4 separate regions of the Homo sapiens genome follow, and regions 1, 3 and 4 are each reported to be linked to region 2. The links are microRNA targets in miRTarBase. Many come from high-throughput screens and were not tested one by one. Region 2 holds a microRNA gene; each other region holds the end of a gene's coding sequence.

Region 1 (5,145 bases), not on the chromosome of region 2:
TTTTGTATTTTTAGTAGAGACAGGGTTTCACCATGTTGGCCAGGCTGGTCTCGAACCCCTGACCTCAAGTGATCCACTCACCTCAGCCTCCCAAAGTGCTGGGATTACAGACATCTGGTCTCTTCCTCTTCCTTACAGACCTCCCTACAGTCCACTCAGAGTCTTGGAGGTATTCCCGCCAACCTCCAGTTTGTCCAGGATCAGACAACCCCTCAGGACTATGGGCCTAGCTTTCTGTGCTTCTCTGCAAGTTAACCTCAGAGAACCAATGTGTGATCAGGTCCCTTCATATAAAACTGACCAGTGCCTCAGAAATCACAGAAACAGAGTCGGGGCTTTGGACTGGGCACCTTTCCATTAACTTTAAAGCAGGGATGGCCGTCCTCAGGTCTGGATTGGATCTGGTTCTTACAAGCCCTTGAAATTCACAAGAAGAAAATAACATTGTGTCATTCTGGATCATATTTGCACTGATTAACCTAATCTATTAAAGACAAGATTACATTCAGGAGGAGACTACCCACCCCAACAACAAATGCAGCAGTTGTATAAATTCAATAGGTCTCCACCTCATCTCATAGAACTATGCAGACCTTAAGGGTAGAAAGTGTTTCTTCCTTATTTTTGTTACTTAACCCTGTGTGTTTAACCCCCAGCTTTTCCCCTCCTCTGAAAACACTTGGCACTGGAGAAGGGTTGATTGAATTTTGCTCATGAATCTGGCTCTAGCATTCCATCAGATTACCCTCCTTTCTCGAGTGCCCACCCACCACCCAACGGAGGTTCCGATGCCATTTTCCAGTGCCAACCGCACCCTCAACCACCTTTCCAGTGTCAACCTTAGCCTTAGCTGCCAAGATTCCCCAGAGCTCAGCCTTCAAGCCTTTCTTCATGATTACACCCAAGAGTATCAGACTCGAAGGCTTGGCCAACCAAGTCTTCAGCAGCCCCATCACAGAGGCCATTTATATCCTGCTTGCTTTTCTCACCAGCACACTTCTCTTCTAAAGGGAAGCCAGGGAAACAATTGTTTCTGCCTCCACTGCATCCTCCTACATTCAGTTCCAAGCTAGTGCTGGGAACCGAATGTGTGTAAATGAAGGCTTTACATTCTCAAATGTGCAACTTTGCTGCCACGGCTTCAGACCAAAACAAAGATCTGGAGGCACTCATTGGCAGGCTTGGGTCACATAGATGTTCATCTGGATCTTTCAGGACACATATTACACTTTTTGAAAATATTTAGAACTGGCCGGAACTTAGTCACCTAGGTTCTCCCTATTGGTTGAACAGGTTGGCAGCCAATTCCACAGCCAATCTCAACTTTTGTTCACTGCCAAATGATTCCCCTGCAACCTCTGAGTTTCTGTGGGAAGAATCCTTCCTTACTTTCAAGATGATCTCAGATTTCTAACCAAACCCATTCAGGTTACAAGGAACTTCTGTGACTCATGTGACTCAAGAAAGAAAGGAGAAAGGAGAAATAGCTCTGAGGCTGCTGGCAGCTTCCCATTTGTCCACACCAGTAGATTTTGAAGGGCAAGAGAACAGGAACGAACCATGTCTGAGAAGCCAATATAGAAAAAAACTATGTTATAAAAACATTTTTGTCACAACAAATAAATTATACTTTAAACAAGAATAATGAATGTGTTCCATTCAAATATAAGTCTCTAATGAGTAAGTTAAAACACAGAGAATGTTGTCTAATTGTATTATTTGTGTGTGGGTATTAAAGAACGAATCAAATGGTGAGTGTATGTGTGTTTTCAAGACCAGACTTTGGGGCAAAACTATCTCAATTTTCATTTCCCTCAAGTGAAAACTGGTCATTTTTCCCCTAATAGTAATTTCTGTTAAGAAATGGGCAAAATATATGTGTGTGTGTGTGTGTGTGTGTGTGTGTGTGTGTGTGTGTGTATATATACATATATATATACACACACACCTATATATACACACACATATATACACACGTATTTGTGTATATAGGCAGTGTTGTTATTCCCACAATGCCTCAGAGTCAGCCCTGCCCTTAACTGGCTGAAGGATGTGGGATAACAACACCTATATACACATATATTTGTGTATAGGGACCACTGCAACAGGGTCTTGCAGTGAAGGAGAGAGATTGGACTCAACACCCTATTTATAATATATATAACGCAATGTACAACCAGAAGGAAACATGGTATGTCCAGTAATAAGCTTGTAATAAGCAACAAAGTTTTCTTTTAATAATGATGCTAAATTCCAGGATGCCAACATTCTTTGCTGATCCCTAAAATTGTGCACCTCGTAAGAATTCCGACTCTATTCTTCCCTCCCCACTTAGGACACCTTGATGATATTTATCACTCCCTGGTGTTTGTAACTGAAATGTAATACGTGTCCTATGTAAATACACAATCTGCTTAGTCATATATGCTTGTTTAACTGCCAAAGAGATGGGTTGGCTACGATTCTTTTCAAGCATCCAAAAATACTCACCAGAAGGAACTAAACAACCAATTTTCCTAAGATTATCCATCTACTAATTTGGGGGCTCAGAGAAGTAGCATGCTCCTAATCTCTTCTAAGATGCTGACTCCTAGGTTGACTCCACACCAGCTCTGATTCAAGAACAACAGGTGGCTCCCCAAAAAGGCTGAGCAATTTTATAGGATGAGAAAAAGCCTACGAATGATCATTTACTAAGCATTTACCTTATGCTTCATTAATGTTGCTATGAAAGTACTATAAGATCCTAATTTTTGTATTCCAAAAGTTCCCGCTTTTGTTAACATTTCCACCCTCTCTCCTCAAAAATATATATAAAAGGAATTTTACCACAGTGTAATCCATAAAAACCACACCTTTCTGATCTAGGTAATGGCTATCCCACATTGCTTCAGGCTAATTTATCAATAAATACTTATTGAGCACCATGCTGCCTTTCTTTTGGATATGTACCTAGTGGTAGAATTGCTGGAGCACATGGTAGTTCTATTTTCAGTTTTTTGACAAACCTCCATACTGTTCTCCGTAGTGGCTATACTAATTCACATTCCCACCAACAGTGTATGAGGATTCCCCTTTCTCCACATCCTTTCCAGCATCTGTTAGTGCCTGTCTTTTTGATTCAAGCCATTTTAACTGGGGTGAGATGATATCACATTATGATATTGATTTGCATGTCTCTGATGATTAGTGATACTGAACATTTTTTCTTACACCTGTTGGCAATTCGTATGTCTCCTTTTGAGAAATGTCTGTTCAAATTTTTTGCCCATTACTAAATTGGATTTTTTTTTTACTATTGAGTTGTTTAAGCTCCTTATGTATTCTTATTATTGATCCCTTATCAGGTGAATAGTTTGCAAATATTTTCTCCCATTCTCCCATTCTGTGGATTGTCTATTCACTTTGTTGACTGTTTCCTTTGCTGTACAGAAACTTTTTAGCTTGATGTAATCCCAATTGTCTATTTTTGCTTTGGTTGCCTGTGCTTCTGAGGTCTTATACAAGAAATCTTTGCCCAGACCAACATCTCAAAGTATTTGCCCAATGCTTTCTCCTAGGAGTTTCACAGTTTCAGGTGTTAGGTTCAACTCTTTAATCCATTTTGATTTGATATTTTTGTATAGTGAGAGATGGGGGTCTAGTTTCATTCTTCTGCATAGTTATGCTGTTTTCTCAGCACCATTTTTTTTGAAAAGACTGGACTTTTCCCATTCTAAGTTTTTGGTGCTTTTGTCAAAGATGAGTTGGTTATAAATGCATGAATTTATAACTGGGTTCTCTATTCTGTTCCACTGGTCTATGTGTCTGCTTTTATGCCAGTACCACGCTGTTTTGGTTACTATGCTTTTGTAATAAGTTTTGAAGTCCGGTATTGTGATCCCTCCAGCTTTGTTTTTTGGTTTGGGGGTTTTTGTGTTTCAGGGTATGTTTGTGTGTGTGGTGTGTGTGTGTGTGTGAAGGGTCTCACTCTGTTTTGTGTGTGTGTGTGTGTGTGTGTGTGTGTGTGTGTGTGAAGGGTCTCACTCTGTTGCCCAGGCTGGAGTGCAGTGGTGCACTCATAGCTCACTGCAGGCTCGAACTCCTGGCCTCATGCAGTTCTCCCATTTTGGCCTCCCAAAGTGCTGAGATTACAGGTATAAGCCACTATGCCCAACCCAGCTTTGTTCTTTATGCTCAGGATTGCTTTGCCTATTCAGGGTCTTTTGTGGTTCTATATAAATGTTAGGTTTGTTTTTTTTTTTTCTCTTTTTGTGAAGAATGTCATCGGTATTTTGATAGGGATTGCATTGAATCTGTAAGTAGTTTGTAGTAGTATTGTCATTTTAACAATATTATTCTTCCAATCCATGAGCATGGAATATATTTCCACTTTTTGGTGTCCTCTTCTGTTTCTTTCATCAGAATTTTATTTCCTTGTACAGAACTTTTATTTCTTTGGTTAGATTGATTCCTAGGTATTTTATATTTTTTGCAGCTATTGTAAATGGGATTACTTTCTTGATTTTTCAGATTGTTCACTGTTGGCACATATAAATGCTACTGATTTTTGTATGTTGATTTTGTAACCTGCAACTTTACTGAATTTGTTTTATGTTCTATCAGTTTTTTGGTGGAGTTTTTAGGTCTTTCTAAGTAATAAGATCATGTCCTCTTCAAACAAGGTTAACTTGACTTCTTCCTTTACAATTTGGATGCCCTTTTATTCTTTCTTTGCCTAGTTGCTCTGACCAGGACTTCCAGTATCATGTTGAATAAAAGTGGTAAAAGTGGGCAATTCTTATCTTGTACCAGTCTTTAGAGAAAAGGCCTTCAAATTTTCCCCTTTCGGTCTGATGTTAGCCATGAGTTTGACATAGATGGCCTTTAATAATTTGAGGTATGTTCCTTCTATATCCATTTTGATGAGGGTTTTTATGATAAAGGGATGAATTTTATCAAATACTTTTTGACATCTATTGAAAAAATTATATGGTTTTTGTTATTGATTCTGCTAATATGGTACATCATGTTTATTTCTGTAAATTTAATCATTTTTGAAGCATCCCTGGGATGAGTCCCACTTGATCATAGTCAATGATCCTTTGATGTATTATAGGATTCACTTTGCTAGTGTTTTGTTGAGGATTTTTGCATGTATGTTCA
Region 2 (5,145 bases):
ATGTCAGAATTGGTGCCCCATGTCCCTTTTTTGGAGATAGACACCTATGGGAGACAATCACTAACTGATTTCAGGATTAGATAAATAGATAAATAAAAACAGCAACATTGAGATCCCATCTCTACTTTTTAAAAAATAAAAATAAAGAAAAACAATGTTATAAATGGTAGTTTGATATGGGGGAATCATATCAAACTATTAGGTTTATATTTTATATGTCAAGTGTGGTCTAAACCATAGGGGGCTTTTTAGATTGACCTAGAGAGTTAATGGTCCTTCAAAATATTGGAAAATATTCTTTGGCTGCCAATCAATTAATATATAAAAATGAATTTTTGAAACAATGATATTTGCAAGTTGGAGATTGCCAGTTGTATTTTGGTATGCTTAACCTTTAAGACCAAGCAAAAATTTTAGAAAATCTCTGATTCTTAACTTTTAACTAAATTACATCAGTGAACAACTGTCATTTGTAACCTTATTTCACCAAGGATTACATCTTTCTTTTCTACCAAAACTTCAACGAGAATGTATAAAAAGTAGTGAAGTTGAATATATGAATTTTTTATCCTGTATCTTACACTATTATCTTGAGATGCAAATGGAAGCTGAAACTATCAAAGGATCTATAGTACATGGAAAAACAAGACTTAGTGATTAACAATCATATGTGGGATTTGGATATTTTAGACTTGGCTACCATGTGCTACCTCATTTAATTGTAAAGGAGATAGTACTTTGATTTTTTTAATTGCTAATTCTGTATTTCCTTATTTACATGTACCATCTCTATACCAAAGTTTGAGGAAGTTGGAAAGTAAAACATTTCATCTATAAAGTGCATTACTAATATTTAAATTATCAATAAAATTGATAATTTTAGTAAAATAACAGGGTAAATTCCTATTTATGCGAAATTATTAGAGAATGAATTATTTTAGTTAACTAGAAGTTTCCATAGGGGTTAATAAGTTTTCACTTTCTCATATAGTATACTTACATTTACATCATACCATTCATATATCACACTGGAGTTCTTCATCAACTCCAGATCATTGTTAGGATCATCAGTGCATATATAGGAAATTGGACCAAACTTATGCTAGTCCTATTAGGCCAAATCCATGAATGCTGATATTTAATTTCTGAATAAATTGTTACTTGCCCTTTTACTTGTCATGTCTTTTTTACTTATAAAATGAAGTGTCGCATTTGGATATTTACAAATTCTAGACATTGGCCTTGGTGGTTGAGCAGATTTTGTTTATTCTGGCGAATGTGTGTCTATGTGTTCACAGGTATTTGCATTTTTCATCCTGTAGCTCCTTAAGCACAGTTTTAAAGATTCTCATTTCTTTCAGAAAACATTTTATGACCAAAATACTAAATAGTATTCTTTGCCTACCTTTAGATGTTTCGCCTAGTGAATTTTGGGAGGAAGGTGTGTGTGTGTGTGTGTTTAATGGTCTACTCAGAGTAATAAAATATACTTAGATATGACCGAAGTAGAATATATAGGTCTATGTGTTTGGTAAACTTGTCGAATGCCTACTTTATGAAAGACATTGTGCTTGGTACTATTAATTATTTAATACTATTTATTATTCCATTTCAGACTATATATTTAGGTTGGCGCAAAAGTAATTGTGGTTTTGGCCTTTATTTTCAATGGCAAGAACCTCAGTTGCTTTTGTGCCAACCTAATACTTCACATATATTTTCCAACAGACTTGAGAAAATGTAACTGGAATATATTAATCATATATTTTAATTACAACATATTTATCAGTACATTAATTCTGACAAATTTTAGATGTGTAATCATGGGCAAATTTTTCTATTTGGTTTCGTTCTTTTTGGGTAGAACTTATGTACGTGCTTTTCTTGGATAAAGAAACTATACTGATACCTTCTAAATTCTCTAATAAGGTTTTGATGACTCAGTTGACATATTCTGGTTACAAATCTCTAATATATTTGGCTGGGGGGTAGAGCGGGTAAAAGGAAATTTCAGTCTTGGAAACCCCGGAGTTAATGTGTTTGTGTTAGGTTTAGGTTTCTCATGGGCAGCCGGAGAGCCACATTGTTCCCAGAGCCAAACGGCCCAGTGAGGCAGCAGTGCCCATCATATGGGTCAGAGGTGTGGTTCAGTAAGTTAGGCATTCCCTTATTTGAAGTTCACCTTCACCACTTCCTAGTGTTTGACTTTTAATACATATTTTAACCACTCAGGGCTGTCTTGTCCTCATCTGTAAAATGAGAATGACAAAGCGTACTTCATAGAATTATTATAAAGATTAAAGGAGATAATTGATGCAGGAGAGAGAAGTCAGTTTGTACCCACTATCCCCTCCCCACTTGGTTAAGCCTCTGCTGACATACTCTTTAACAATAAAGTAGGTTTTTAGGCCAGGCGCAGTGGCTCACACCTGTAATCCCAGCACTTTGGGAGGCCGAGGTGGGTGGATCACACTTGAAGTCAGGAGTTCGAGACCAGCCTGGCCAACATGGTGAAACCCTGTCTCTACTAAAAATACAAAAATTAGCCGAGTGTGGTGGTGCATGCCTGTAATCCCAGCTACTCGGGAGGCTGAGGCAGGAGAATTGCTTGAACCCAGGAGGCGGAGGTTGTGGTGAGCTGAGATTGCGCCACTGCACTCCAGCCTGGGTGCACAGTGAAACTCCATCTCAAAAAAAAAAAAAAAAAACCCACACACAAAAAAACAATAAAGTAGGTTTTTATATGTCTTTATTTTGTTTGTTTGTTTATTTATTTATTTTTTAGAGATAGAGTCTGGCTATGTTGCCCAGGCTGGAGTGCAGGGGTGCCATCATAGCTTGCTGCAACCTTACACTCCTGGGGTCAAGTGATCCTTCCACCTCAGTTTTCTGAGTAGCTGGGATTATAGGTGCAAGCCACTGTGCCCAGCTATATTTTCTTTTCTGATGGATATATAGTCTACATTGTTGGGGACCATAGCTGTCAAGTAAAGGTTGAGCAGCAAATAAAATATAGTCAGTTCTCATTATTCGTGGTCGTTGTATTGCATGGTCTAGGGAGAATACAGAGCTAGGTTCCTGACACCCTCTGGTCACAACATTTTCACCAACTGATCAATGTATAACCTTGTTTTATGTGTGTTTCTGTTTAAAACACCTTTTAAAATATATATTGATCCATTAACAGTGAAGCCACAGCCAAATATCACTATAACTCATGCCTGAACAAAGGTTATTTAGCACACCTTGAGTGTTAGATTTTGGGGTTACATGTAAATTTTAGCAAGTAAGATAATTTACAAATAGGGAGTCCATGAGTAAAGAAGATCAACTGTATCTAAAAATGGAAGCACAACTTTGCATCTGCTGTTTTCTTAGCTCCTGCTGTTTATCAGCTATTGTTAGGGGCCTAAGTGACTATGACTCTTATTACCACCCTAAACACCCTCACATGAGTGTGACTTTGACTCTCATTATCTCAGTAAACACCCTCAGATGAAAGGGGTGGAAAGGATAATGGAGGCTGAAATACTAATCTTTTGTGTGACTTGCCAGTCACCTACAGGCCACCCTACAATCATAAGCATGGGATAAATTCTTTCCTTGTATGTTAATTGTAATCTTCAAGATCTAAACTTGAATCTATCACATTGCCCTACATCAGAAAAAGGAAAAAAAATATGTAAATGATTCCAGGGCATGGAGCAAAACCTTTAAAAAATAATTTATTTTAGTTTAAATAAAATCTTTCATAGTCATCATTTGCCTAAAACATGTTTGCAGTTACTTCTTTTCTAGCATAAATTGTCACTGTGGGAGTTGGTTTTGTTAAAAGTCTTTGTCTATGTACCTAAAGATAACTTGAAATCTTATACAGTTCGAGGCTATAGCACATTTGGTTGGATGTTTCTGAATTAACCTTATGCAACATACAGAAAACTTCTGCAATTCAATTCATATCTGTCCACACTTTCTTGTTTCAACCCCCTAGTAATTATCAGAAAAAGGAACCCAGTTAAGAGTACTACTGTGATCATGAGGGAGTTGGCAAAGATAACTGTCCTGGAATAAATAACAATTTGATCTGGAGCCAAGCTCATTACTATAATATTGCTCTATTTAGGACCATGTATATCTTTAACCTTCAATCCTGAGTCACTGTTGCTATTTGCTCTCTCTATTCTTACTTCTGGATTGTGGAGCATTGCTAGAGAAAATTATGGAACTGGACTGTAGCAGCACAATGGCACCCTCAAAGATGTTCACGTTCTAATACCTAGAACCTGTGAAGATGTTATCTGACATTAGCATTAGCAGATGTGGTTAGGTTAGGGATCTTGAGATGGGGAGATTATCCTTGACTATTTGGATGGGCAACTGTAATCACAAGGATCCTTCTAAGTGAAAGAGGGAGCCAAGGAACACAGGTGGCCTCTGGAAGCTGGAAAAGGCAGGGAAACAAGTTCTCCCCAAGAGCCTTCAGATTTTGGCCCAGTAAAACTATTTTCAGACTTCTAACCTCAGGAATTCTAAGGTTAGTACATTTGTGTTGCTTTAAGACACTTGGTGTTAAATTGTTACCACAACATGGCTCTCTACAAAGTCATGTAGGCCAATTTTGTCTGATCACTCAGTATTGCTGCACTATATGATGTTGTTCTCTGAATTGTTCACAGCTGTGGACCGTGTGTCCTCTCTTCCTTCCCTGTACACATGGGATGGATAAGCTGCTATTTTACTGAAACTATCAAGCTTAACTTACTTGTCTGCAAAGATACTGGGGTCATTTATTCGTGAAAAGAACTTTCTCCTGATTCTTAGCTGCCTTAGCTCTCATGTACTACTGCTTTTCTGTGTCTTAAATAGATCACCCTTGGCAGAGACAGATGGGAATCAAGGAAATTAAATGGGAAGCTATTGTAATAGTATTGGTGAGAAATTATGAGGGCCATGGATTAGGACAATAGTGGTAGAGAGATAGGAGATTTGAGAAATATCAAATCTGAGGAGGAGATTTGAGAAATCTCAGATCTGAGGAGGAGATTTGAGAAACATTTTGGAGATAAATTTGGCAGCACTTTGTGACAGTTTGTTGTAGGAGAAGATTGAGGATAACGGGTCTGTCATATACTGTGTACTCAGGTG
Region 3 (5,145 bases), not on the chromosome of region 2:
CAAACCTCAGCTGGCTACTGACGCAAAATAGCAGGACAAAGGCCATTTGGGAACTAATGGAAAAACAGAAATTTGTACAAATGGTTTCATCCCTCAGGAGGGGCACGCTTACACCACAGTAACAAAGAGCCCAAATTCTCAGTGGCTTAAAACAAAGGTTTATTTCTCACTCCCACTTGTATCACAATGTTTCAGAAGTGTGATGCTCCCTAGCCTGTTGCTCTTTATACAAGAGTAATTCTGAGGTGGGGCGTGGTGGCTCACGCCTGTAATCCCAGCACTTTGGGAGGCCAAAGCCAGTGGATCACCTGAGGTCAGGAGTTTGAGACCACCCTGACTAACATGGAGAAACCCCGTCTCTACTAAAACAACAAAATTAGCCCGGTGTGGTGGTGCATGCCTGTTATCCCAGCTACTCCGGAGGCTGAGGCAGGAGAATCACTTGAACCCAGAGGCGGAGGTTGTGGTGAGACAAGATTGTGCCACTTTAACTCTGTCCTGGGAAACAAGAGTGAAACTCCGTCTCAAAAAAAAAAAAAAAAAAAAAAAAAAAAGAATAATTCGGCATCCCTTTAAGAACAAACAAGATGTTTACTGACCATGATGGGTGGTTTACAGCAGTGTTTCTCAAAGTATGATTCCCCAACCATTTGCATCACAATATCCAAAATATTGCTAAGTGCAAACAATTTATTGGTATGCAAATGATTTTAACTCCAGAGTCCCAACCCCTAACTACTGAATCAGAAACTGAACACCAGGGCTATAGAGTCTACTACTAGCTTCTGAAAGTTCCTTTCAGTTATGCAGGCCACTATTTTATAAAAGTTGCCATTTAAATGGATATTTTACTTTCCTAGAAATAACTAGAGTAGCACAAATACTGTTTATTAAAATGTCAAGGTTTCATGTTTACATTTTCTTATATCAAGTACAATGGTATATATACTTTTTTTTGAGATAATTATTCTAGATTCCAGGCTTTCTTCTAGATGTAAGTTCCTAAAGCTTATAGTTTACATTGATATCTAGACATATATCTTAAACAGTCTCCAAATTTTCTTTAATTAATCAAAGTATGTTAATGTCACTTGGAATTCTACATGGAAAAGCCAACAAAATAACTAAAACTTGACTAATGAAGATCAGCGTCACTAATAAAAGTCTGCAACTGTAGTATTAGGTTGGTGCAAAAGTAATTGCGGTTTTTGTCATCACTTTCAATGGCAAAAGCCCCAATTACTTTTGCAGCAACTATATAGTTTTATAAATGATCAGCATTTAATCCAACTTAGCATGTCAACTGGAAATTTTTCAATATTTTAAAGCTGACCTTCTGCAAAAAATGTTTCAAAACAGGCTTGACTGACACCACCTCCCTGCTCTGCTACCCGACCAAATAAATTGAATTTGTTTTAAAAGAGTTCCCTTCATCTTTACTCAAGATTCCCTGAGCTACTTCTAGCCTAGCTGACCTTTTCAAAACACCCTCAATAAAATTATCCTCTTGTCAGCCAGTTATTTTCTTCCTCATATTTACATCCAGATCTGCCTTTGGAGAGACATTTCACCTCGAATGTTTGTACTCAATGGACCCTGCCTTCCATCAAGTTGGCAAGGGCACAAAAAAATAGTGATTGTAATATAAGCAAGTGACAGGAACAAAATGAAAACTTAATGACATTATTACCTACATCTGATGGGCCTTTTAGCCCACTATACCTATTTTAAATATTCTGGAAATTATTTTTGTATGAAACAGGTATTATTTATCAACAAACTTTTGGAAAATAAACTCCTCAAACCTTATGCTGTTATGTTAATGTAATGGGCAAGTCTACTTGCCTAGGTGAGAAGAAAAAAAAAACAACTACAACTTGATTCCATTTGTTTTATCCAGAAGAAAAACATTCAAAGTAAAATGTGAACATTTAATTACCTTTAAATCATATATGAAGTAATTTACATGCTATACACTTCCAAACACACTGAACATAAATTCAACTTTATAAGACATATACACAGTCTGCTTTTGCCAACATATACCCTGTAGGTCACTTAAGATGTAACTGATTTCTCAGTCCACCTGTGAGCATATAAACACACAAATATATGTCTGAAGTTGAAGATTAAGATAATAAACCAGAGTTGAATACAAGAAGTCAGCCACAGAAGATTCTAAAACCACAATCAGTGACTGGAACACCAAGGCACAAAAACTTCCCTTTGTAGTCACAGAGATTAAGTTTCCATTCCCAGTGCTTAAATATGGAAGCAGGATTGGTTAATCACATACTATATTTTATAGTGCATTTCTGTTGCTGTTTAAAAAGGAATATTTTTTAAATTACATAATGTATTACAGAAAAGCATTGGAAAAATAAACAGGATAAGATAAGCTCTCATACAATAAAGTTTTTTTTGGTCTGAAAAAGATGTTTATATTCAAAACTAATATAATAGAGGTGTAACAGAAAGTAGCATGAGGAACACTATGCAAATTGCCTAATACTCGAATTGTACTTCATGCCACCATGTTATTTAAATTTTCAATTTTAAAGCCAGTTGGGTGATATTGCTAATTCCAAGTGATAGTTTTGGGGTTTTTATGTTTTGTTTCTTGTTTTTTGGTAATTTAAAGATATGTACTAGTACACAGAATAAACAGTAAATATAACATGGCAAAATGAAATCTTTCCCAGAGTTTATGTTGCTTTTGTTAAACAGTAACTTTGTACTAGAATCTCTTTTTTTTTCTATATTTAACAAGAAGAAAAATAATGCTCCACATAGAAATGACTTCAAAATTCATGCAACCATGCACAACCTAAACTATCTGTACTTCCCTTTTTTATTTACCCAAAAGTTTTTGAGTAAACTGAAAGTTAGATACTCCAGGAACAGCAACTCATTGAGCAATAAGGCAGTTTAAAAATATACATATACATGTACTATTCATTGTTTCTCAGAACAGTTTTAGAGCTTTAGCTCTTTAAACTTACACAGTTGTGAAAGAAATAAAGCCAACCACAAAATAAGAATCAATGGAATGCAGTAATCCATATATAAAAGACAGTCAAATGTGCTTATACGTATTCAAGAAATCAATATTCTAAGCTGTAAATAATAAATTATCAAATGTAGCACTAAACAAATTATGATCAGAATAAACCTTCAGTTTCATTAATTTTGAATACAAAAGTGGGGCAGGCTAAACGTGAACAGTGTACTTCTACAAGTGTTTATATAGAAGTATTGTAGCATGCACCCCCAGCAGTAATGAGAGCACAATTCTTTACAAACAAAACAAGGCTGACCAGAAGAAAAACAAAACAAAAAATCTTGTTGTAGGCTGTAAAACTTAAGGGTAAAGAATCCACTGGGAATTTAAGGCTTTCTTAGAAATATTTTTCATGGCACTTTAACATTAAATATCACTAAAAGGCAAAATATGTAAATATTCATAGTTACAAAGCTACATAATTGAAAGTACATGCCATATCATTTATTAAGAAACTATGTTGTCAAATTTTGTTTTCTTGAAGTTAAATTGTACTTAAGGAAGGTTATTTATGTTTGGCTGAATTAACATAAATCATAAACGTCAATTCACTAGTGTACAGTGCAAATTGTGTTTTGAGTAAATACATCAAATACCACTCATTTCTTACAGAACTGAATGTCATTCCTTGCTGGAAATGCAATTAAAATGACTTATTTCTCTCACAAGGGTAGTTATTATCCTTCCTTCAACTATTAGCCTACTGTTAAACCCTAAAATTGTTATTAGACAAATTCCTTTTGGTTATGCTTACAGACCATCCTCACAATAATCCTTTTCTTGTACTGCAATCATTGCAGAAAAAACTCTATGAGTCTAACAAGTCATTCTTGCCACACCATACTCTAAGCTGACCACAGCAGGTTCTGATTTAGAAAACTCTTCTGCATATTCACTATAACGATTATCTGCCGGGCTGCTGCCCTCTATAGTTCGAAGAGCATCATTTACGGGTAGCAGAGTCTGCTCTTTAAAACACAGGGAAGTTTTGAGGTTAGGTGATTCAGGATGAACTGAATGTAACAATTCCTTGGTGAGGATGCCATCTGTTTGCTTATTTTTGCGTTGTTTAATTTTCTAGAACAAACACAAATTTGAAAAAATTACTAATTGCATAAGCCACAATATGTTACATGAAAAAAGAAAACATGCTTTTGCAAAATATGTTCTCTGTATGTATAATGCAAAACTAAATCTCAAAAAAGTAGAAACATTTAATGCATATGACATGGTTGAAAATCCTAATTGTGTACAATTTTTTGCTGTGGAAAATTGTTAGTTTTTATATTTATTAAACAAACAATCCAGCAAGACTTGACTGCAGGCGATCACTAGGCTTCCACACTTAAAATGGACATATATTACCTAGAAAGCATAACAGGTAAACATTTATAATAAAAGAAATGTGTATGAAACATTCACCCTGAAAACACAACAAACAAACTTGTGTAGCTAAAGGGCTCACTGACTATATAGAGTTTTTCTTACATGGTTTTCCTACAGTGGTTTGTTAGGTAAAAATAACAGACTTTAAACACAACAGAACTTTACTTTTTTAACAGAAGATTTTTAAAGTGTCCTGTGGCAGAGTATCATGCTCTCCAAATTCTTGGACTGTCCCGATAATCTTGTATTACCTATTATCCTGGACTTGCCTCTCTTGACCATATCCTTCTACAATTTACTCAAGCAGTCATTACCTCTTTATCTAAAAGATGACTAAGGGAGACTCCTGCCTGAGAGGTAGATGAGACAGTCTTACTGTTATAACTGTCTAGGATTTAAAAAATATATATATACTTACTGATCCTTTTTGCTTATATAGGATGGCAGAAAAAAGATTATAGGAAAGTCTTAGGGTAGAGAGGGATTTGTTAAACAAGACACACACAGAAAGCATAAAACATTGAGCAATTTGACATGAAAATTCAAAACATCTATATATAGCATACCATAAATAAAGTGGAAAAGACAATAGGCTGGACAAAACCATTTGTAATATATATAACTAACAAAGAATTAGTGCCTGGCATATAAACAACTCTTACAAATCACTAAGAAAAAGGCAAATATGCCAACAGAAA
Region 4 (4,000 bases), not on the chromosome of region 2:
CTCTTGCTGCAAGGAGTAGATGAAAGACTGATAAATGAAGCTGAGGTCCCCCCAGTGCTTCCCTTTCAATAGTTTATGCTAAAAATATTTGTTTTTTAAAACTCTGCGCTTTCTTCATTTTTATTGGAACGCAATTTGTGAACCACAACTGAGTCTGTATGCAGGATCTCCAGAACGCAAATCAGAAAAAAATTTGAGATTTTATTCAGATTTTTCTATTAGATTGAGCCACTAATGTTCGGTAAGGGGCACTTGATGGTTAAAAAACACAACTGGCATGATAAAACTACACTAAATAATATCTACTTTATTTGAACAGTCATATCAAGAATGGCCCTAAATTTAATCAAGGACTAAATTTAATGAAAGACTCTGACATTAAAGACTCTGGATTGTTTGAAGGTATTTTGCCTGCAGGTGAGACTGGTTTTGAGGGCACAGAAACGTAGCCTGAATGAACCATTCAGAACTCATCATGCATCCAACTGAACACGTTTCATGCTTACTCAATTTTTTTTTTTTAAATGCAACAGGCTCAGTTTTCTCACATTGGTGCATCTCTTCATGCTAGAACTGCTTATGTCTACAGAGTCCCTGAAGAAGCAAAAATCCTTTTTTTAGCATTAAACATAGCATATGGAGTTCTTCCTCAGCTCTTGGCCTATCGTTGTATCTACAAACCAGAGTTCTTCATAAAAACAAAGGCAGAAGAAAAAGTGGAATAAAAATATTACTTCATGTTCCTCCTTTCTAAATTACTAACTTTTGTTATACTGGTACTGATATTTTGTCCCATTTCACTCTCTTCTCATACGTGAGTACTTAAGAATATGTACATTCTTGCTCTGCACTGTATGTGTGAGCTATATGGTATTGTGTAAATTTTTTTTGAAGGAAAATGGAAATTCTTGAGAAACAGTTTGTTTAAAGAAATATATTCAAAATCATTTGTGAATAAACTTGATCATCCATCTCAATATTGTTTGACATATAAAATAATTATAAGTGTAAAAAATTACAATTTAGTGCCAACAGTAGTGAGCATGAAATGAAACTATTCAAAAGAGAATATGGCCTGTGCATATTAAAAAATTCAAAACAGTGAATGCAGACTGGAGGAGTAACTTTTGCAAATAAGATGAATATGCTTCATTATTAAACTCAATATAAAAGGCAAATCATCAGAATATTTTTAAATGTTGTTTGAAAAATGTTTTCCCAAGGAAAGTTTATTATTTGCTGCTGTTTCAAGAAAATTACTTTTACTAAATTTTTTTGTGTGAATTTAAACAGCTAAATAGGGATCAGTAACTTTATCTCTATCCTTAATGAACATTTGTTTTATTGGTGGCTGGAAATATTTCTATTGTATTTCTGTGTATATTTTTAATAAAATTATTTTTGGCCTCTTATAAAGACAAATCTTATTAAATTTGAAACATTTCATATATACACATAAAACGCTTTTAAAGAAAATTTGTGAGTTGTATATTCCAATTCAAAATGCCATCTACATTCCCCTTATGTTTCAGTGTGAGCAATGAAGAGGTCTTTTGATGAATTAAATTTCATTAATTAAAAAATACATTCAAATATTCAAAATTAAAAAGGACCTTTTAAGGAAGAAGTATTAGATCGACATCCCTACTATCTTTTTATGAACTTTTCATGTTTGGGATTGTATGTTGAGTATACTAGAGAAAATCAGTATTCACTAAATGAAAGAAACACACCAAAAATACAAACAGCCACCTCCTCACTGTGCCCTGGAATGATAAATGGACTGGTGCTTTCATACCCTTAGCTGCCATCATCACCATCATCATTATTAACGGCCCTAGGCTTTTAGGTCTGCTCACATTTTCTCATGTTTTTATTAGCTCTCATCAAGAAAACCAAAAGAAAATGGGATACAAATCAATGCATGGATAATATCAAATTACAAAATCTAGGGTCCACTGGGCTGGTAAATATGTAAGTGTAAGCAAATCATGTAGTCATCTCCCCATCATCCCCTACAGTGTTTTCAAATAATCTAAAACCCAGAGAGTGTTTAAAAAAAAAAAAAGAAAGAAAAAGAAAAACCCTCACCTGCACTTGATTCTATTGTCAGCTTGCTGTGAACAATTTTTGCTTTAATATATGAATTACATTAATACCTCACGTTACATATATGAAGCCAAATTACACTAACTTAGTTTGCTTACAACCTCAAATCTTACTCCCAGTACACATTCCAATAAATTTATTCTGTAAAAACAATACATTTTTTTGTTTTTGATTTTTTTACAGTAAACTTTTCAACTACAAACCGTGAATACGCGAAAGATGTTCCAAGGACAAGCATTAACAGGATTGATAAAACCCAAACTGACTAAATGTGTTCTCACAATATAAGCTGGCATAAAAATAAATAAAATTCTCTATTATCACAATAGCAACAATAATGTACACATAATAATGGTTTAAGGATGAATATTAACTATTCTAATTGTAGTTCCAAAAGAAAACAGTTTATTTTAAAAGTCTACATTTAAAAGTCAATGCTTTGTCTGGTTTCCCATAGGGCTGTTGCTGATTCCAGCTTTAAAATGTAAAGTATCCACCTTGAGTGCTTAGCTCAAAATTGTATTGGCACTGGGAAAAAAATAAATCATTGCCTTTATTTTGGAGTAACACAAAAAGACTCACTAACTTCACATATAGAAACTTAGTTTGTGTACATAACAATATGAATTTTGAGAAGTATAAGCTGTCAACTAGCTATTTCTAATACGGAATAGATATTTTACAATATGGTTAAACTTTACACATGGCCTCAAAACTGAAGGACAATTTTAATTTCGTCTTCAATATACCAACGTTATGTATTTAGGAATTAATTCCTGGGTTCTGTCACAGAGAGGAAATTCCATTCTTAAGCATTATGTTGAGTGGTCATCTAAAAAATGTTAATTTATATTTAACTGAGTGTTTGATGATGGTGGGGTCAAGGCAGGAAAACGATGATCATAACTGCCTTGATAAAAGGATCCTAGACATGTATAAGTCTGCGCAAAAATCTTGATAATCCTTAGTGGTTAAGGGCAACTTCATGCAACCAAATAACATGAAATTAAATCAGTAACTTTTAAAAAAGGCTAAAATGTCTTTTCCCCCCGAAACACAACAGAGAGGAATATGAATAATGTACATACAAACTGGGGTTCTGTCAATGACAACAAGGACTATGTGTTGGTTCATATCAAATCCAAGAATATTAGACAACCAAACATATAACCTTCTTGTGGTTTCTCTTAATATGCAGCATTCATTATGGTAGTTAGGTCTGTAAAAAAAAAAAAAAGAAAGAAAACAAGCCTTTAGATGATTTAGGATACTAACAATGAGAGCTATCCACACCTAGATAGTACATAATTGGGTTTTCTGAAATTTTAATATGCACTGCAGCATTAACAATACTTACTGAGCAAGAGCAGCTTCTGTGGCTTTGCTTTAGACCTGTCAGTGCAAAAAGTTAAAGGAAATCCTAGGGTATTTTTAGTGTCCCATAGAAAAAAATTATAAACCTTGTCTACTGTCTGTTAGGACAGAGTGCAGCAGTGCACATTCTACAATTCTAGGACTATGTTTATTGCTGGAATACATCATCAGTGGAGAAATTGATATAATCTATCTTTGTGAGGACATTCTTCAGAAAGAAAGGTAAGCTGTGTAAAATTTAAAAAGCACTTAGAGTGTGCACCAATTAATCTTCAGAATATTTATAACTTAATTACTTGTGACACATAGCTCAAACAAATGTAGAAGTTAATCATGATGTACAAAGTCTCTGACTTCTTGCTTTTAAAAAAAACATAAAGAATAAGAGGAAGCCTAGATTTCTTTTAAAATTTAGATGGCATCCGTGTGACAAACAGAAAATAAAACATTTGTTTCATAAAAGAATTATGTTTCTATTTGGGTCCCACTTTAAATTGTGTCTGGTTCTATTTCCCCA

The links. The annotated mature microRNA hsa-miR-548b-5p reads AAAAGUAAUUGUGGUUUUGGCC and lies in region 2 at 1,637-1,658, shown strand. An mRNA with a match to its seed (bases 2 to 7 or 8) in the 3' UTR can be bound and repressed. Matches are read on the target gene's strand: a 7mer-m8 pairs with bases 2 to 8, a 7mer-A1 pairs with bases 2 to 7 and ends in A, and an 8mer does both.
Region 1: miRTarBase lists PLET1 as a target of hsa-miR-548b-5p. Seed matches in the 3' UTR shown: 7mer-m8 at 1,386-1,392 and 7mer-A1 at 1,628-1,634.
Region 3: miRTarBase lists MTMR6 as a target of hsa-miR-548b-5p. Seed matches in the 3' UTR shown: 7mer-m8 at 1,914-1,920 and 7mer-m8 at 1,193-1,199.
Region 4: the mRNA of TM6SF1 is a reported target of hsa-miR-548b-5p. Seed matches in the 3' UTR shown: 7mer-m8 at 1,257-1,263.

The regions. Positions count from the first base shown.
Region 1 is chr11:112,244,662-112,249,806 of GRCh38, reverse strand. It overlaps PLET1 (placenta expressed transcript 1), which reads left to right. Exons shown (of 4, transcript NM_001145024.1): 4 at 833-1,654. The coding sequence ends at 1,008. Among named protein-coding and RNA genes, the nearest start is that of PLET1, 14 kb to the left of the region's middle.
Region 2 is chr6:119,065,611-119,070,755 of GRCh38, reverse strand. MIR548B (microRNA 548b) reads left to right here and starts at 1,613; the gene lies at 1,613-1,709. The region is part of intron 1 of FAM184A (family with sequence similarity 184 member A); the gene reads left to right.
Region 3 is chr13:25,245,355-25,250,499 of GRCh38, forward strand. It overlaps MTMR6 (myotubularin related protein 6), which reads right to left. Exons shown (of 14, transcript NM_004685.5): 14 at 868-4,138. The coding sequence ends at 3,878. Among named protein-coding and RNA genes, the nearest start is that of MTMR6, 40 kb to the right of the region's middle.
Region 4 is chr15:83,135,948-83,139,947 of GRCh38, forward strand. It overlaps TM6SF1 (transmembrane 6 superfamily member 1), which reads left to right. Exons shown (of 10, transcript NM_023003.5): 10 at 534-1,461. The coding sequence ends at 725. It overlaps HDGFL3 (HDGF like 3), which reads right to left. Exons shown (of 6, transcript NM_016073.4): 6 at 1-3,328. The coding sequence ends at 3,323. Among named protein-coding and RNA genes, the nearest start is that of TM6SF1, 30 kb to the left of the region's middle.